3 linked regions of the Homo sapiens genome follow. The protein of the gene in region 2 interacts with the protein of the main gene of each other region in a biochemical or structural test. Each region holds a gene or a part of one and is shown on either strand. Other genes may lie near its edges.

Region 1 (6,735 bases), on a different chromosome or scaffold from region 2:
CTCCCAGATTCCTTCTCTGTCCATTCCCTTAGTAAGTCAGATGGTCAACAAACATTTTCTGATGGGAGAGGTGGGAATCTTTATTCCCTGCTCCCCTTGTTTCCACACGGAGGCATGTCAGCTTCCAGAGTTTCTCTCAGGGGAACGAGGGAGTGGGAAGATTCATCATCGCGCAGGTGCACTGCAGATTGTTCAGCATCCCTGAACCCTACCTGTAGGATCCAAACAAATCAAACTGCCTTCAAACCTCTCCAAAAGCTCCCCTGGGGGCAAAACTCCCCTAATGAGATCCAGTGAGTTAGACTAACCCTCAGGCCTCTTCTCTCTCCTCCCCTCTCTTCTGTCCTCTTTTGGAGAGTCTGACAGCTCCAGAGGGTCCACTGTGGTCTTCCTCCCTGCCCTGGCAAAGGAGGCCTAAGGTTGTCCCATTGCGCCTGTGATGAATGGCAAATCTGATGAACTCAGATAAAGAATTAGCAAACCTATTATACACAGATTGAAGGCCATATCAGCAACGAAGGGGACATTTTAATGTATCTTCAGCTGCTTGTCTTCTAAACTCACGTGCAGATGAGCAGTGGGACTCTGGGTGTTCTAAAACTCCACACCTTGGATGCCCCGTGCTTGGTAGGCATTAGGGCCCTCTCCAGCTTCCCCTGCTGCTGCCTGTAGCCATATCTGTCCGTTCACCCCCTATTGACCACCCCCGCTCCCAAAGGAAGGTTCAAGGGTATTTCATGGTTTGAGGATTCATATTGTCATTTTACTTATTTACAGAATCAATAAACCAACACATACACACTATTCAGAGAGGTGGGAAGTGCTCTGCAACCTTCTCCCTCAAACCTGGGCCCAGACCCCAGTCCTGGACCACTGCATCCACCCAGCAGGAAAGGGGTCCAGCCAAGACTTTTCCTGACTTTGTAACTTACAGACACAAGAGAATAGAGGGTAGAAGGGAAATTCTTGGCACCTGGACTAGAGTGAGATAAAAGGAGAGTAGGAAAGCAGTGATAGGAGAGAAGTGAGGGAGGTACATACAGTTTTATAAATAACTAGACAAGGTCTGAGCACTTTGGGTGGGGATGGAGTGAGAAAGGCTACAGGCATGTAGGGGCCTAAGTGGAAAAGGAAGAAATAGTGCTTGGGGCCAGAGCGGATGAGAGATCAGCTCTGGGCCTCCTTTTGCCCCATCTGTAAAACAAGTAGGTTGCCCTAGGTGGTGTCAGAGCAGCCACGTCCTCGGTGATGCTAGGACTCTATGGGGTTCTAAGCCAGCCTGGGGGCTTTGGAAGAACAGCTCTGGGGATTGGCAAGGACTGGTGGCCACCGCCAGAGAGGGTTGATGCCCGGACAGGCTATGTCTGATCCCCGGGCTGGTACTGTGGTTCAGCGGAGGTGAAGTAGTCCTCCAGGAAGGACTGCAGGTACTCGAAGGTAGGCCTCTCCTCCGGGTCCAGACGCCAGGTCTGTTCCATGGCCTCGTACAGGGATGCTGGGCAGCCTGGAGGGCACGGCATGTGGTAGCCCTGCTCCACCTGTTCCAACACTTCCCGTTTATTCATGCCTGAAGGATGGGTCTCTGTCAGTCAAAGGGACAGCCAGGTGGAAGCCCTTCCCCGTGACCATCCCCCACCCCAGCCCTACCCCTGGCGAGGCAAACCTGGGTAGGGGATTCGGCCCTTGGTGATGAGCTCAGTGAGCAGGATCCCAAAGGACCACACGTCTGACTTGATGGTGAATCTGCCAAAGAGGGCAGCTTCTGGGGCTGTCCACTTGATGGGGAACTTGGAACCTGGAGAAGATGGGGGAGCAGGGAAAGTTAGTGAGGGGGTCCCTGGAAACAGCTGGATTAAGAGAATGGGGTCTGGGCGCAGTGGCTCACGTCTGTAATCCCAGCACTTTGGGAGGCCAAGGCAGGCGGATCACTTGAGGTCAGGAGTTTGAGACCAGCCTGGCCAACATGGCGAAACCCTGTCTCTACTAAAAATACAAAAATTAGCCGGGCATGGTGGCGGGTGCCTGTAATCCCAGCTACTAGGGAGGCTGCGGCAGGAGAATTGCTTGAACCTGGGAGGCTTCAATAACCTGAGATCGCACCACTGCACTTCAGCCTGGGTGACAGTGAGACTCCATCTCAAAAAAAAAAAAAAAAAAAAAAAAGAGACAGAGAGAGAATGGGGACTCTAGGGATGAGGATTTCGGGGATCCTGAGCACAAGGGTCTCTGGGCATAGTAGAAAGGACATGGTATCTAGTCAACACCTACTATGTGTCTAGTATAGTGATGGGCACTTTCCAAAAATCGCAATAATTCTTATCCTAATAACGGCCAATACTTGGCTAGCCTTTCCTGTGTGCCAGACACTGTTTTAAGTGATATGCATGCATTAACTCATTTAACCCTCCCAAAACCCCCATGAGATAGAGACTCATTTTACAGACGAGGAAACGGAGACACTGAGTAGTTAGGTAACTTGCCCAGATCACAGAGTTAATACCTGGCTGGGATTCATACTCAGGCATTCTGGCTACAGAATTCCCACTGTTACACGCCATTGTCTTTCATTCAAGAATTATAGCTGTGCCTGTCACATAGCAGGTGCCTGGTAAACATCTGCTGACTTCCTGTTATCTGAATATTGTCACTTTACAGAAGAGAAACGGCAGCTCCCAGAGGTTAGGTGACTTGCCCAAGGCCACATGGCTGGTAAGTGGCCGACCTGGGATTTGAGCCCAGAATTGCCTCTCATACTACATCAGGATGGGGCGACTCGGGCGACCTGGAGTGAGGAAGGGTTCCTGAGTGCGTGGGGCCCCATGGAAGTCCCTTGTTGCATGGGGAGCTCTTGGAAGGTGGGGTGAAGCAGGGCACCTTGGCAGGGGTTGTACTCATCGTCCTTGATGAGACGCGCCAAGCCAAAGTCTGCGATCTTGCACGCCAGCCGCTCCCCAACCAGGATGTTGGCTGCCCTCAGGTCGCGGTGAATGTAGTTCATGCGTTCCATGTAGGCCATGCCCTCAGCTACCTGGGGGACCATAGTGTGGAGAGATGGGAGCTCATGTGGACTCACAACACCGTGGCCTGTTTGAGGGGTGAGGGACCATTTGAAAAACCCACTTTCCAGAGGGGGAGACTGAGGCCCAGAAAGAGAGGCAGTACCTCTCAGGCACAGCTGGAGGCACAGCTGATGCAGGGGGCGGGGCCGCCCTCCCAGGCGTTTGAAGGGACAGAGAATTTGTGAACAGTTAATAGGTGGGAGGTCCGGGAGGTAAAGGCTGCTGGCCCAGTTACCTGGGCTGCCATGTCCACCAATTGGGGCAGCCTCAAATCCTGGCCCTCTGGGTTCTTGAGAAAATCCAGCAAGCTGCCTGGGAAGAAGCCAGAAAGTCAGCGGCAAAGCCCTACCCCGGGCCCCAGCCCCTCCTCCTCTCGCTTGACCCCGCCCCTCAGCCCCTCCCACCTGGACCCGCCCCTCACTTAGGACCCCGCGGGTGCCTCAACCCCTCACTTGTCTCGTCCTGGCCCTGCTGCCAGACACGGACTCTGCCCACATCTCGTTTCTTCTGTTCCTTGGTGTTCCGGACACGACCCACCCAGACTCCGCCCCAGACCCTCCCTCATTCCCGATTCTGCCTTCGTTAGCCCAAGCCCTACCCGCCTAACACCGGAGGCACCGCCCCCCTCCCCAGCTCCCTAGTGGTCTCACTCGGCCCGGCTCCCACCTCAGCCCTCCAGTCGTTTTACACACCTGGTCCCTTAGTGGGACTCTGCCCATTGTCCCTTGTCCCTCACAGATCGCGTCCCAGGTCCCACGCCTGAAAACTCCCCTCTTAACTTCACCCCGAATCCCGCCCGACCAGGCTCCGCCTCCTGACCGTGACACATGAACTCGGTCACGATGTAGATGGGCTCCTCCGACACCACGGCGTACAGCTGCACCAGCTTGTCGTGCCGCAGCAGCTTCATGACCTGCGCCTCCTCCAGGAAGGCCTTCGGGGACATGGTGCCCGGCTTCAGCGTCTTCACCGCCACCTTAGTGCTGCCGTTCCACGTGCCTGCTCGGAGGCTGTCTTGTCAGGACCCTCTCCCCCGAGCCCAGGCCCTCGTCCCGGCCCCCGGGAGCTCCGTACCCAGCCACACATCCCCGAAGCAGCCGGTGCCCAGCCGGCGCTCCAGCGTGATGGAGCTGCGGCTGATCTCCCAGGCGTCCTTGGCCAGGCCCAGCGTCTGCGGCTTCATGATGGTGCAGGGCGCGATGAGCAGGTTGCACAGCCCGTCATTCACCTCTAGGGGAGGGGTCATGAAGTAGAGTCACAGGTGGGCCAGGACACCCCCCTCCACTCCTTATCCTATCCCAGCCTGGTGCCAGACCCTAAGATCAGTTATAAGGAACTAGGCCCCAAGTGAGGTCACAGGCCAGGAAGAAAGGCAACCCGATCCACTAAATAGGGGAACATGTTGGTGCCCAAGGAAGGGGGTGGCACCCAGAGGGAGAGATGATCCCTGTAAGCCTTCTGTAAGGACTGGGGGCCTCCCATAGGAGGTAGCCTCCAGCTGGGCCTTGAAGGATAAGGTGGGATTCTCACAGGTGGAAATGGGGTTGGGATTCCAGGCAAAGGTGTGGACATGAGGCCCACGGTCTTCCGTGGACCTCATCCTTGGCATAACCAATCAAGGCAGAAACGTGGGCATTGACTCCTGCCTTCCCTTCACCCCCACAGCCAATTCTCCACCAAGTCAGGCCTATTCTGCCTCCTACCCAGCTTCAGAATCGTCTGCTTCATCTTTACTCCACTGCCACCGATTTAGTCTGGCCTCCACCACCTCTCACCTGGACAACAGCCACTGCCTTCTAATGGACCCCTCACTCTGCCTTGGCCCCTGGCATCCAAGCTCCACCAGCAGCCAGAGTTTCTCACAAAAGTGAGACCAGCCTCTGTCACCCCCTGCTCAGGGCCCTGTGATGATGGCTCCCTGTCTGCCCACAGGGCAGTCCTGGTGCCTTGGTGGGGCATTCAGGCGGCACAAACACTCCATCAAGTTTCCACAAATTGAGGCCTTGAGGCAAGAAACTGGCCAATGCCTTGCTCAGTCATTAGGGGGTGCTGCTTGGTGAAGGACTGCTTTCCTCCAGAAGCTCACAGAGCTGGATCCTGGGCTGGCAGACCCCATCCTTGGGTTCTGGTTTCCGTCTGGCCAATACTGCTTGGTAGTCCCTTCCCTTCTCTGGGCCTCAGTTCCCCCATCTGGACAATGCTTCAGTTGGTTGGTTCAGGGATCTGAGGCCCCTGCCCTCACCCATGTAGTGCTGCACCAGCTCCTGCACCGAGTTGAACTGAACCCGTGTGGTGATGTAGTAGCCGCCCATGTCCAGTTTGCGGATCTTGTAATGCTTCACATGATCGCCTCTGGTCTGATCCCAGTCCCGGATGGACAGGGAGTAGGCACCTGTGGAGAGGATCACTTTTGATCTGCTGTTCTCCTCTGCCCTAGTCTGGGAGCTGGGAGAGGCCCGACAGCAGCATCCCTAGGACCTGGTCCCAGTCTTGGCCTTAACCCAAGCAGCCTACCGCTCCTAGCCCTACCCCAATGGCTGGGCCTCCCAGTCGCCTTGGGGCGTGGCACCACCCCTACCTTTGGTGGTCTCGCTTTCCCGAATGAGAAAGGCCCCCTGGGGGTTGCCTGGTGAAAGCAGCTGCCTCTCTGCATCCTTTCTCCCAATCTTTCCAAAGTACCACCTGTTGGGAAAGGCAGGCAAGAGTCAGGTACGCTCTGCTCAAACCTCACCTCAGCCTCCTGCACAGTCACCTCACAAGCCAAGACTCCATTTTCCCCATGTGTAAAATGGGGCTGGTACACCTGCTTCACATCCTGGCTGGGAGGGTTACAGAGAAGGGGAGTGTAAAATGCCTGGCACACAGTAGGTGCCCTGCAAAGGTTAGCATCTCTTCTCGTTAGGTTTCTCTTGAATTAAAATTGCTACAATCACAGTCATCAGGGTGCCATGGAGCCTCAGTTCATCTCACTGTAGCCCTTCTGTGCACTCATTTTACAGATGAGGAAGTTGAGGCTCAGAGAGGGAAAGTGACCTGTCCACAGGCTGGCTAATGAGCTCCACCTAAAATCCTCTGCCGCTCTCCCTAGTTCTTTTTTCACCACTCCAGTAATCAGATCACTCAGATCCTTCTCCCACCTCCACCTCCAAACTCTTTCCTCCTTTGGCCTCCAGAGCAGCACAGTCTCCTGCTTCTCTTCTCTCTGGCTGCTCCCGCCCCGGCTACTGCTCTTCCTGCACTCTCTTAGACTTGGATGTTGTCCTAAGTCTAAACTTCAACCTCAGGCCTCAATCACTCCTCTCCCTTGGGGATTCTTTCTGGGATTGAACCGTAGCCCTAAACCAACTGTGCAGGTACAATGGGGGAGCTGAAGTGACCACAGGTGCCATAGAAGACTCAGATGATCATGAAACTGGCCTGTGGCCATCTTGGGTTGAATTAAAGGAGCCTCGTGTTTTCAAACCAAGGGTGGTGGAAGTCTCAGTGGACCCTGGGAAGGTCAGTCCGCCCCTGGGTACTAGGCACAGTTCAGGAAACAGGGGAAGGCATTGGCAAGTGGTGTGTCCAGGAGGGCAGGCAGGAGGGGGACGGAGGAAGTGTTGAGGGACTGTATAGACAGGACACATTGTCAAGTTTTTTCAAAGCCCTCCCCGCTCCCACACGCATGACATTAGCT
Region 2 (6,118 bases):
GCTCAGGTGATTCTCTCACCTCAGACTACTGAGTAGCTGGTGCTATAGGCCCACAATACCATGCCCAGCCATTGCTCAGGCTGATCTGTTTTGGACTGGGTTTAAAATGCAGCCTAAGGAGGCCAGGTGCAGTGGCTTATGCCTGTCATCCCAGCACTTTGGGAGGCTAAGCGGGGGGCGATCATCTGAGGTCAGGAGTTCAAGATCAGCCTGGCCAACATGGGGAAACCCCATCTCTACTAAAAATACAAAAATTAGCCGGGCATGGTGGTGCACGCCTGTAGTTGCAGGTACTCGGGAGGCTGAGGCAGGAGAATCTCTTGAACCCAGGAAGTGGAGGCTGCAGTGAGCTGAGATCACACTGCGGCACCCCAGCCTGGGTGACAGAGCAAAACTCCTTCTCAAAAAAAAAAAAAGTTCAGCCTAAGGAAAAGGCCTAGTCTTTGACATCTAGGGTACAGGGGAATTGGCAGTGGTAAGAGAAAGTTTCCTGGATATGCCTGGAAGAGGAAAGGTTGGAGCCTTAAGATTTGAGGCCATGAGGGCCACACAAAAAGTACTATTTACCTCAGCATACAGGTGAACCATAGTCTCACTTTATTTCGAATTTTAGGACTGAACAGAAAGAAGGTTCAGATATTTCTTCAGGGAAGGAAAGTGGGCAAATAGCACAATGAGGCAAACCACACAATCTAGACGTACTTTCCCGGGTAAACAAACTGGGAAGCCCAGAGCTCACAGAGGAGGAGAGCAGAGCTTGGGGTGGCAGAGAGGTGTTCATTGGGAAGGAGTCAGGAACACAAGAGAAATGTTCATGAGCTCATCCAGGATAGAGAGGACTCTTGGGGAAGGGGACCTCCTTCCCCATGCTGTCTCTGCCCCAAGCCCTTAATGAAGCAGGAGAGGGAAGTCTGTCCAGAACCTCATCTGGTTAGACATTTGCAGCAGGAATAGGGAGGGGGTGGAGGCAGAGCCACTTTGGACATGGGAAATCACAGTTGCAGTAGACAGTGAGCTCTAGTCACTCCAGAAGCTTGACATAATTTGCAGGGAAGAGTCCAAAGTGGCCATGGCAACGTCCCCGCCACCAGCCCTCGTCCACCATCTCAATGTCAGTGATTACGTCGTCCGGATCAAAGGAAAGCTCATCACTTCCCTCTGGGGAGAAAGTTGAGGGGATATTAGAATGGTCAGACATGAATCTCTTTTCACATGTCCCCCTGTCTTATATCAGGGGCCTCCATGTACCAGGCTCCTCGGGCCACTCCCAACCTACCTCCTTGGTAATCATATACAGCCACAGCTGAGATCCCCAGAGCCACAGCCCCAGCCCCAGCCCCAGCCGGGCAGCCTGATGATCCTGCATAATGAGAAACACAAACATGGGATCATCAACATGAAGAAGGCAAACAGAGAAAGATCCTACTGGGGCAATAGAGAAATTCTTCTTCCTCTTACCCTCCCCTGGACATGAGCAAATTCTCCTGCTTCTCCTCCCATCACTCACCAGCCAGAGCAGAAGAAAAAGAAGAATCTTCAGGCTCGAGCACCTCCTCATAGTCCCCCTCTGGTTCATCCTCCTGCTCATGCCTGTCCATCTCCTCAACGTCCTCATAGTCATTCTCAGGCTCGGGCTCAGGCTCGGGCTCAGGCTCAGGCTCTGCTTCGTACACTGGCTCTTCCTCCACCTGGAGGCCTTCCAGAGTCCTAGGGGGCAGAGCTGGGGGCTCCTCATTGTCCTGAGAAGAGACAGTGTGGAGCACTGTGACTTCCACTTTCCAGGAGGAATCAATGGAGGACTGATAAGATCCCCCGCCCTTCACCACCCTGCCTCTTCTCCCCTCTACCCTTGCCTCCATCTAACAGCCTCTCCTGGGGAACACAGCCTTTCATCCATCTTCATTCTTCAATCTCCTCCCACACCCACCCACCCAAAACACATTCCAGAGACAATGGGAAGAGAATGTAAAAGGTGTGAGGGGAGGGAAGTAGAAAACAAGTCAGATTCTTTGGGAGACCAAGAAAACATTGAAGCAAGAGCACATTGTTGAGCTACCACAGCTAGGATAATCATCTATACTAGTTTGCCCAGGACAGAGGAGTTTCCCAGAAGGCAAGGTCTTCAGTGCTAACACCAGAACAGTGCAAGGCAAACCAGGATGGTTGGCCACCCTGCACAGCCCACATTCCTAAGACTCGAGAAGATGGGGTGGGGGCAGAGAATCTTTGGGGGTTTGCTTACCTCCGGGAGAGTCTGCCTAATGGGCAGCAAGGGCACTGGGTGTTCCCTGCTGGTTCTCACAGGCTCAGACTCTGATGATGGAGGAGTCCCAACTGGAGGCCAGGCCTGTGGAAAATGAAGCATCTCTCAAGTAAGCAAGCCTCCATCTTCACTCCTTTTTTTTTTTTGAGATAGACTCTCGCTCTGTAGCCCAGGCTGGAGTGCAGTGGTGCGATCTCAGCTCATTGCAACCTCCGCCTCCCAGGTTCAAGCGATTCTCCTGCCTCAGCCCCCTGAGTAGCTGGGATTACAGGCACACGCCACTATGCCTGGCTAATTTTTGTATTTTTAATAGAGACAGGGTTTCACTATGTTGGTCAGGCTGGTCTTGAACTCCTGACTTCCTGACCTCGTGATCTGTCTGCCTTGACCTCCCAAAGTGCTGGGATTACAGGCATGAGCCACCACGCTCGGCCCATCTTCATTCTTTTTATTTTATTTTATGCATTTTTTGAGACAGGGTCTCACTCTGCTGCCCTGGCTGGAGCACAGTGAGATCATAGCTCACTGTAGCCTCAAACTCTTGGGCTCAAACAATCCTCCTCTCTAAGCCTCCCAAGTAGCTGGGACTATAGGCACACACCACCATGCCCAGCTAATTTTTTAATTGTTTTTATAGCGATAGGTTCTTACTATGTTGCCCAGGTTGGTCTAGAACTCCTGGCTTCAAGTGATCCTCTCACCTTGGCCACCTCAAGTGCTAGGATTACAGGCATGAGCCACCACACCATGCATGTCTTCACTGTTACATTTACCAGGAACACCCTCTCCCACTCTCTGCCAATTCAAATGGAACTCATCCCTCAAGATGGGCTCCAGCCTGAAGTGACGGCCCCTTCCTCATAGTTCCTACAGCAATAATTGGCTGTGCTGGCTGGTGACTTGCTTTCTGTTGTACTATGTAAATCTTGAGGGTTTTTTCTAACATTCTGATAGGAGGTCCAATTACAGTCAGACTGAAGTCTTCTAAAGACAGAGACAACAGACCTTGCCTAACCCAGGGGAGGACTTTGCCTTATTTTCTGCCAATGGTTTGGACCCCTTAGGCTCCTGTCTGGGCAAGAGATCCTGGATGTGGATCCCAGAGGGCCAGGCGCTCACCTCTGAGGAGATTTTCTTGGGCAGTGGGGCCGGTACTGCTGGCTCTTCCATAGCTATCACTGGCTGTGGAGCCTCAGGGCTCCTCTTTGTCACAGCCTTTCGCTCCTGTTGCCTCCTGGCCACCTGCTGTGCCTTCTCCTCTTCCTCTCGCTTCCTCTTCTCCTCAGCCATGGACTCAAATTTCGCCTTCAGCCCACGGGTACCACTAGAAGCTGCAGACACAGGCAAGAAAAATTAGGGTTGTCTTGGATTGGAGAGTGGGGAAGGGCATGGCACTTGAAGGAAGAAGGGGAATCAGTTAAATATCCGGGAGGAGGGATTTGTGGGACAGGATGGTAAAGAGGTATCGATAGAGGAACAAGGGATAATAGGAGGATGGCATAGCCCTGAAGCCTGGATTTTTATAAAGCCAGGCTATACGACCTAAGACTCGTGTCTTTTTTTTTTCTTGAGACAGGGTCTCAGCCCAGGCTAGAGTGCAGTGGTGCAGTCATGGGACACTGCAGCCTCAACCTCCCAGGCTCAAGCAATCCTCCTACCTCAGCCTCTGGAGTAGTTGGGACCACAGATGTGCACCACCACACCCAGCTAATTTTTGTATTTTTTGTAGAGAGGGGATCTTGCTGTGTTGCCCAGCCTCATCTTGAACTCCTGGGTTCAAGTGATTATCCTACTTCAGCATCCCAAAGTGCTGGGATTACAGGTGTGAGCCACCATGCCCAGCTGACTTGTGTCCTTTCTAAATTGTAAACTTTGGGCTTCCAAAAAGCATCCTCCCCTGTCCATATTCCATAAATCTGTATGCCTTCTTCAAGCCACCACTCATCCTCAACCTCATCCGAAACTCCTGTCCCTGTGTGTTCTTCCCAAGTGGTTCCTCACCAATGTTCCCATGCCACCCCACCCCTGTCCCAAGCCACACTGTGTTCTCTGCCTCCGATTCCTTCCCCGACGTCACTCTGTCTATCCACTTGACTTTCTCTCTTTCTTTCTTTTCTTTCTTTCTCTCTCTCTCTCTCTTCTCTCCCTTTTCTCTCTCTCTCTCTCTCTCTCTCTCTCTCTCTCTCTCCTCTCTCTCCTCTCTCTCTCTTTCTTTCGTCTCACTCTGTCACCCAGGCTGGAGTTGAGTGGCATGATCTCAGCTCACTCCGACTTCCGCCTCCTGGGTTCAAGTGATTCTCCTGCCTCAGCCTCCCAAGTAGCTGGGATTATAGGTGTGCACCTCCATGCCTGGCTAATTTTTGTATTTTTTATAGAGATGAGGTTTCCCCATGTTGTCCAAGCTGTTCTTAAATTCCTGAGCTCAAGCAGTCCTCCCACTTTAGCCACCAAAGTGCTGGGATTACAGATGTGAGCTCCGCCTTACCTGGTTTTTCTAGGAAAGACAGAATCTGGGAATATGAGGATAGGGATCAGGTCTAACTCAGCTAATCTAGGTAGTTAAAGGCATGGAGGATATAGTCTGGGGAAGAAAAAGAATGAGGGAGAAGGAAGTGAGGTGCATGGAGAGTGAATCACTAAGCCTCACCGGCTTCTATGGGCGTCGTCTTCTTATAAGCTGTGGTCGGGGCCTCCATTTCATTGAAGCCGACAGCGCTCTGCAGGCAGGAGAACAGCATGTGTGTTGCGGGAGAGGGGCAAGGGTAGTGGTGACCTGGAGGTAGTATTGGGGGTTGGGGGCCACTATAAGAGGTATCCCTAACCATTGGATGCTCAACAGCTGGACAGCATGTTCCAATGTTGTTTTGTGGTAGAGAGGGGGTAAAGAAGTTCTTAAGTGCTGAGTTCAGCTCCCCCTTTCAGCAGCTCAGTGACCTTAGAATCTCACATCTCCAAGCCCAGTTGCCTAGAATGTAGCAGGGCCCCCTGGCTCATGCATGAGGAGGAACTAGTGTAGGGAGGACAGTGGCATGGGGTGGGAAGAGACTTAAGATTGGGTTAAGCAATGCCAAGAAATCAATACAATTTCCAGTCCAATACGACCTTTCCCGGCGGTTTACCTGTCTCTCTGTATGCCTCTCCCACTGTCCTCAAAGCTCAGGCTTTGGCAGACATGCCCCTTAGATGCTGAGGGCAGTCAGTGGGGACTGCAGGACGCCAGCAGGACAGGCTCTGTGTGCCCAGCACCACCGTCCCCTCCCTCTCCCAGCCTTCTTCACGCTCTTCTCTGCACACTTTCCTAAACTTAGGGAACTCTTCTTAAGACATTGGTGTTCCGGTGCTTTACCTTATCCACTCGGTCCTTCTGGATTCCATACTGGCCACCAAAGCCCTTGGCATAATCTGCAGGACAGAAAGTTCTGAGTTATAGGAGATCAAAATGCTGGGAATGGGTGGTGAGAAGAATCAGTGGGAAGAAAAACAGGAATGTGGAAAACAAATGTAGGAGGAAATGTGAGAATCAGAGGATAGAGGGAGGCATGGATGGGAAGAGAGGGAAACAGATGGGGAAAAAATCTGGGAGCGAATGGAGAAGACAAAGATGGAAGTAGGGAAACATGGAAAGCAGAAAGCAACAGATAAGGAAAAATGTAAAAGAAATAGGAAAAAATACAGAGAGCACTTCAGCCATCCGTATGGGTTCCAGGGAAGCAGTAAACCTCTTTATCCTCTGTGAGGACAGCAGAGATCCCTCTAAGACTCATGGCAAACCATCTTCTGACCATCACTCAGCTTGTCTGTCCTCATTCCTTCCTCAACGCCCCCTTCTCTCTCACCTCCCTCCTAGGCCCTGCT
Region 3 (7,113 bases), on a different chromosome or scaffold from region 2:
CCTGGCCCAACATAGTAAGACCTCATCTCAATAAAAAATAATAATAATAATAAAGGCCAGGAGCAGTGGCTCACACCTGTAAACCCAACACTTTGCTTTGGGAGGCCAAGGTGGGCAGATCCCAAGGTCAGGAGTTCAAGAGTAACCTAGCCAACATGATGAAACCCAGTCTCTGCTAAAAATGCAAAATTAGCCAGGTGTGGTGACGCATGCCTGTAGTCCCAGCTACTTGGGAGGCTGAGGCAGGAGAATCACTTTAACCCAGGAGGTGGAGGTTGCAGTGAGCCAAGATCATGCCATTGCACTCCAGCCTGGGTGACAAGAGCGAAAGTCCACCTCAAAAATAAATAAAATAATAATGATAAAATAAAATAAAAGTAAGCTTCATCACACTCACCGTGGAAGCCAGCATTGATCCTCCAAACCAAACTGCATATCGCTGCATGTGGTGTGTAATGACTTGTACATCAATAGGTTTTGGCTAAAGAAAGACATAGTATGATCATCTTCATAGTAAATTCAAATAACAACTTCTGTGTCATTTAACCTTAAATGTACATATACAAAAATAATATCTGTACTAAATTCAGGTGGTATCTTACAAACCAGAAACAATTGAGATTGGCTGTCTCAGAGGAAAGGGGTTGGGAACACTGTGGAAGAGACAGGGAGGGAACAGAGCAGAATAAATGGAAGGGAAATAACAATGAGCACATGTTTTATACAGTTCTGACTTTAAGAATCTAAATGTTAGTGTTTTACATACTAAAAAATAACACCTTAAAAGAAGGGGAGGTTGGGGCAAAACAAAGTACAACAAAAACAAATTAAACTAATTGTACTTTTTTCAAACATAAGCACACTAAGGTGAGGAAAGGGACTAACACAAGCAACTTGTGAGCATAGTATTTTGAATCTTATAAGCCTTCAGGCTGAAGATAAAATATAAGCAAATATTGAATTCTAGTTTTGGGTCTATTTTTCACAGTGGTGTGGATTAACAATTCTGAAACTATCATATACATATTCCAGGATTAAGCAAAAACATAAACATATTATAGATAATAGGAGCCAGGTTTCTCACTGTCAGAGAAGGGCATTACAATATGGAAGGGCAGAAAACTAGAGTGAACCTTCTATAACTGGAGACGTCTGTAAAAATTCATGGTTTTAATTTATGTAGAGAATTAGATATAGATGTATAAACACACACACACCCCTAGCTCTAATCACTGAGAAGGCCTAGACTCAGTGATACCCCAACAGCAATGAGCACAAAGCTTGGTTTCTTAGTAACGTTCTCCACTAACAGGAATAAGACAAGGGTGTCTTGAAGAAAGAAAAGGAGAAAAAAAGGGCTGATTCCAGGGCCAGAAAAGAGAAAGTACAAGATCAGCCTGAAACACCTTGCTGTGCCGGGAAGTACAGAAGTAGGCAAAAAAAAAGATGTGGCTGCATCAAAAAAAAAAACCTAAGAGCCATTTGAATAACTCCCACTGGTCAAATCTGAAAAAAAAAAAAATGTGGGATTAAAATTAATGATGAGTGGTATTACTGATATTATGATATTACAGTGATATTAAAGATATAGACCACAAAATGAGAAATCAGGAGTTCATATAGATATTACTAAAAGAATAAATGAATGTGGGAGAAGGGAAAACTCTTGCTTATAGTAAAACAAGTCTTAAAAACATAGAAGGAATGACAGAAATTGCAAAACTCCATTTAGCAACTACCACAGTAATAACTGTTTTAGGGAAGAATCACAATGGATGCTAAAAACTAGTGACTGAAACTTAAAAGAGAAACAGGATAGTCTGAAAGTGTCTCCTCATTAGATTCTTATTAAATATAAAGGAAAACATAATAACTTTATAGTGAAAAAACCTGGCAGACACAACTTCAACCAAAAGCTCAAAATTCACACACAGGACAAATTCTATCATGTGTCTACTGATACAATGCACTAAAAATGATACAATATCAATTCTGTGGCATCACTGCCAAAAGTACATAATCTGAACCTACTCAAGCAGAAATATTAAACAAACCCAAGCTGAAGGATATGCTACAAAATAAATGGCTGTACTCTTCAAAAATGTCACATTCATTCATGAAAGACAAAAAACATTGAGTATGTAACAGACTGAAGCAACACAATAAGTAAATGAAACATGCAATCCTTGATTGGATCCTGGATAAGGGGGAAGAAGGTATTTTGTTTTCCTTTTGTTATAAGGGACATTAGTGAAACAACCGGTAAAATTAGAATCAGTTCTATAACTAGATAACACTGGATCAAGGTTAATTTCATGATTTTGATAATTGTAATATGTTCTTGATTTTAGAAATATACTAAAATGTTTGGGGATAATGAACCATCATATCTACAATTTAGTGTGTGTGTGTGTGTACACACACCTATTTATAGAAACAGAATGATATGGCTTTTTTCAAAACTGTTTGGTTGCCATTAAAAATTACAGACTGAAGGAAAATAAAGCCAGAGATAGATAGATAAAGGCATGCTATTAAGATCTATAAAAGTTACTAGCAAGTAAAACTAAGGTGAAGAAGGCAGAGTCCTCCAAAACACAAGGTTTTTCCTATACATGATGAGCATCCCAAGTCTGAAAATCCAAAATGCTCCAAGATCCAAAAACTTTTTGAGCACCAACATGATGTTCAAAGGAAATGCTCAGAATTTCAGATTTTTGGATTAAGGATGTTGAACCAGTATATAATGCAAATACTCCAAAATCCAGAAAAACTCAAAACCTGCAACACTTCTGGTATGAAGCAATTCAAAAAAGGGACACCCAATCTGTTTCTTTCAATATGTCGATACGGTACTGATCACTGGGTAAATTTATTTCTTATTTACAAGTGTAAAAAGAGCTTAAAAATGTTAAACAATCTCACTTTTTTAAAATACTATACTCAGAAACATACAGCATTGTTTTGTACTTATATATCTGTAATGAGTTATTAAAAACTAAACAGCTACTTTAATACATCCATAACCATACCATTAGGACAATCAACTTCAATCTTTTAAGTATTCTAACAAAAAAACCAGAACATGCACTATGTTCATTCACATAATCAATGTGGTTAGTAGGATTCTCAGTACAGAGAATTTATACTTGCAAAACCCAATGACTTCTTTTTTAGGTAGGAGGTAGGGTAGATAGATATGTGGGTAAGGGGAGTAGACGGATGGGCAAATGAATGGATGAATGGGGGTGGGCTGGTGGTTTGGTTGGTTGGGAAGGGGATGCAAAAGCAAACACAACATTTTAAAAGTCTATTGAGTAGACTTCCTGAAGTGTGAAGTCATGACATTATAGGGACAGAGTTCAATATTTTGCCTTCCACCCAAAACATATACTTTTTACTGCATTCCTAGGGATAGGTTTACTCAAGATAATCAAAATATAGGCACTGACAACAGTCAGCCATCATGCAATTTCTCAACAATCAGCAAACCCTAGAGTGCTGTGCTTTACTTTTAAGTAATTCTGAATGATTATGGAAGTCTCAGATAAAGTCCTCATTCTTGGTAATCTTCCAAGCAGAAGGTATTTTATTCACATGAAATACCTTTTTTCAAACAGCTTTGAAAAAAGCCATATCATTCCTCTAAATCAACGTTCTGCTTCAATATTTAACAAGGATGAAAAAAATGAAGAATCTATCTCTAAATATAGAAAGTAGACATCTAAGAATTTTAAATTAATTTTGATTTTTTTTAACCTCAAGCCTAAAGGTCCAGGACATGTAATACAAAGGTTACTTTATTAAACCACCGATTTGACTGCACACTTTGAGGTTGCTATGTGGGAGCTAAAGTCAGTTTTTGAGAGCAGGCTTGACTACTCAACAATGGCATCAATCTCAACTCAGCTTTGCTGTCCTTCTATAGTATAAAACATTTTGTGGATCCATAATTAATTTGATTGTTGGTGTATGCAAAGAAATCTACTATATTAATTATCTATGAGAGAGGTATTTAAAAAAAAAGTCTTTCCACAGGTATTACTAAGAATTATTTTCCAGAAATACAGACAATATCCTAGAAGAATCAAATGATCCAGAATATCACAGACATAAATCTATAACATTAACCATTTCCATTAGAATACCTGACAGGTTCCTCTTATTTTTCTAAATCAGAGTGAATGCTGGCAAATATTTCTCATCCTAATCAAGGAAGGCACCCTCAACCTTCTCACCAATAATTGGGAAAACCAACCTTCAATCTACCACCACTCAATTCCTCACTTAATTTCAGCCGGGCATCTACAGTTCTTTTCAAATCTCTTTGCAAGCGACGTCCAAAGTCCCTGAACATGGTTGAACCTCCAGAGAGGACAATATTCTAGTGGAGAGAAAATAAATATAATATTTAAAAAGAGAAAAGTTTAAAGATATAATATATAGTACTGAAATGCTATTATATCCTTTTTATGAGAGGTGTTTAAGTTTTTTTAAAGTAAGACCTTGAATAACAATTTTGCTATAAATACCTTGTAGAGAGGACGTCTGACATCAATAGGACAATTCTGAATTACTTCATCTACAACTTCTGAGATAGGTTGTGTAAAGTCTGGATTAGCAAACTGAAAAATAAGTTGGATATATAATAGAGATCATATCACTACTGACAAATATCACAATAAAAGGTTAAACAAAGTTTTCAGTTCAAAAACAAAAGGCCTTTTAGAAACCACTAATACTGGTCTCTAACAGATTCAGATTGAAGACACTGAAATCAGAGAAAACTCAAAATTATGATGATATATACCATTTTATAACTATCAGAATAGCAAACATGTAAAGTCATACATATACTATGAGCTGGCAAAAATCTGGGTAAATGGAAACTTTCATATAACGCTGTGAGAGTATACACTGATGTAACCACTATGGAGAATAATTTGGCAATAGTAACATAGTGACATGGTCTGGCTCTGTGTCCCCACCCAAATCTCATCTTGAATTGTACTCCCATAATTTCCACGTGTTGTGGGAGGGACCTGGTGAGAGAGAATTGAATCATGAGGGTGGTTTCCCCCATACTGTTCTCATGGAGTGAATAAGTTGCACAAGGTCTGATGGTTTTATCAGGGATTTCTGCTTTTGCGTCTTCCTCATTCTCTCTTTGCCTGCTGCCATCATGTAAGACAGGACTTGCTCCTCCTTGCCTTCTGCCATGATTGTGAGGCTTCCCCAGCCACGTGGAACCATAAGTCCAATTAAACCTCTTTCTTTTATAAATTGCCCAGTCTCAGGTATGTCTTTATTAGCAGTATGAAAACGGACTAATACAAATAGCTAATAAAATTTTAAATGCACATACCAGTAACTCCACTTCTTACAACAAACTCTGAAGAAACTCCCCAAACATGTATGCTATTACATATGCATATTTACTATAGCCTTGTTTCTAAGAGGAAAAACCCGTTAAGTCCATCAATAGGGGATGAAATAAATAAATGTAGTCTAATCTCATTATTCATGATTCCATATTTGTGAATTTACCTAATCGCTAAAACATATTTGTTACTCCCCAAATCAAAATATGGTTATTCATGGACATGCACGTGTAGAGCAACAAAAATTTGAGTCCACTGATGTGCACATTCCCCATTGAGGTTGAACAAGATGATACTCTGCTATCTAGTTTCAGCTCTCATACTATAAACAAGTGTCCTTTTCACAGTTCTATTTAGTGGCACGGTTTTCATATTTTTGTTAGTGATTTCATTATTTAAAATGGCCCCCAAGCATACTGCTCAAGTGCTGGCTAGTAAACACAAGGAGGCTGTGATGTGTCTTACAGAGAAAAAGCAAGTTAGATAGCTTTGTTCAGACATGTGTTCTAGTGCTATTGAATATAAATGAATATACTAAAATGATATACTAAATGCAGTGCCTTTAAAAAGAAACACACATGAAACAAGGGTATATGTTAATGGGATAACAAAAATGTTACCAGAGGCTCAAAGAAACCTAATACTGTATTTCCCCTAGGAGCAATAGCTAGCTCAGTGTTCACTAATTCAGCGCTCTCAAGAACTTTTTGGCACATCTACTTTGAATAACAAACATCAGCTATATATTCAAACGATGATATACCATAGTCAAAATAAACTTACTATTTCCAAACAGCTGGCACTCAAGAAAAACATACTTTTTAAAAAACTAACTTAAACAAAAACAAAAAACAACTTGAAGCTGGGCATGGTGACTCACACCTATAATCCCAGTGCTTTGGGAGGCCAAGGCAGGACCATTGCTTGAGACCCAGAGTTTGACACCAGCCTGGGCAACATAGCGAGACCCTGTCTCTACAAAAAATTTAAAAACTAGCTAGGCATGGTGGCACACACCTGTAGTTCCAGCTACTTGAGAGGGCTGAGGAAAAAGGATTGCTTGACCCTAGGAATTCGAGGTTACACTGAGTTATGATCACACCACTGCACTCCAGCCTGGGTGACAGAGAGAGACTCTGTCTCTAAATAAATAATCAAAATCTAGCTCTAATTAGTGAAAAACAAACAAGTATTGTATATCTCCTCAGCCATTCATTTTTATCATTAGGTTGTCCTAGTTGAGAGACATTATTCCTTTATTTATTAAACTGAGTCTATAACTGTATTGATAATTATTAGGCATGTGTCAATTTTTTCTTTTTTTTTTTCTTTTTTTTTTTTTTTTGAGACCGAGTCTCGATCTGACACCCAGGCTGGAGTGCAGTGGCGCAATCTTGGCTCACTGCAACCTCTGCCTCCTGGGTTCAAGCAATTCTCCTACCTCAGCCTCCCGAGTAGCTGGGATTACAAGCGTCCGCCACCACGCCCGGCTAATTTTTGTGTTTTTAGTAGAGACGGGGTTTCACCATGTTGGCCAGGCTGATCTCGAACTCCTGACCTCAGGTGATCCGCCTGCCTCAGCCTCCCAAAGTGCTGGGATTATAGGTGTGAGCCACCACGCCCTGCCTTTTTCCAGTTTTTAAGATTAGTTCTAAATTATTTACAGGCTGCGCATACAATGAAAAGAGATTTAATGTTATCAAAGTGACACATACTAATACAAAATCTTTTC

What was found.
Region 1: the proteins of HCLS1 (region 2) and FGR form a complex in vitro, tested with the Homo sapiens proteins (one study listed by BioGRID).
Region 3: the proteins of HCLS1 (region 2) and ACTR3 form a complex in vitro, tested with the Homo sapiens proteins (one study listed by BioGRID).

Annotation. Positions count from the first base shown.
Region 1 is NC_000001.11:27,611,556-27,618,290, forward strand, and holds the end of FGR (tyrosine-protein kinase Fgr), read right to left. Parts: intron 5,742-6,735; coding exon 5,638-5,741; intron 5,452-5,637; coding exon 5,302-5,451; intron 4,290-5,301; coding exon 4,134-4,289; intron 4,059-4,133; coding exon 3,879-4,058; intron 3,372-3,878; coding exon 3,295-3,371; intron 3,029-3,294; coding exon 2,875-3,028; intron 1,796-2,874; coding exon 1,664-1,795; intron 1,568-1,663; coding exon 1,359-1,567; 3' UTR 509-1,358; downstream 1-508. UniProt on the Homo sapiens protein: Non-receptor tyrosine-protein kinase that transmits signals from cell surface receptors devoid of kinase activity and contributes to the regulation of immune responses, including neutrophil, monocyte, macrophage and mast cell functions, cytoskeleton remodeling in response to extracellular stimuli, phagocytosis, cell adhesion and migration.
Region 2 is NC_000003.12:121,630,825-121,636,942, forward strand, and holds the end of HCLS1 (hematopoietic lineage cell-specific protein), read right to left. Parts: intron 5,666-6,118; coding exon 5,610-5,665; intron 4,981-5,609; coding exon 4,911-4,980; intron 3,595-4,910; coding exon 3,383-3,594; intron 2,348-3,382; coding exon 2,243-2,347; intron 1,740-2,242; coding exon 1,508-1,739; intron 1,361-1,507; coding exon 1,277-1,360; intron 1,159-1,276; coding exon 1,022-1,158; 3' UTR 575-1,021; downstream 1-574. UniProt on the Homo sapiens protein: Substrate of the antigen receptor-coupled tyrosine kinase. Plays a role in antigen receptor signaling for both clonal expansion and deletion in lymphoid cells. May also be involved in the regulation of gene expression.
Region 3 is NC_000002.12:113,948,991-113,956,103, reverse strand, and holds part of ACTR3 (actin-related protein 3), read right to left. Parts: intron 4,626-7,113; coding exon 4,533-4,625; intron 4,385-4,532; coding exon 4,259-4,384; intron 482-4,258; coding exon 398-481; intron 1-397. UniProt on the Homo sapiens protein: ATP-binding component of the Arp2/3 complex, a multiprotein complex that mediates actin polymerization upon stimulation by nucleation-promoting factor (NPF).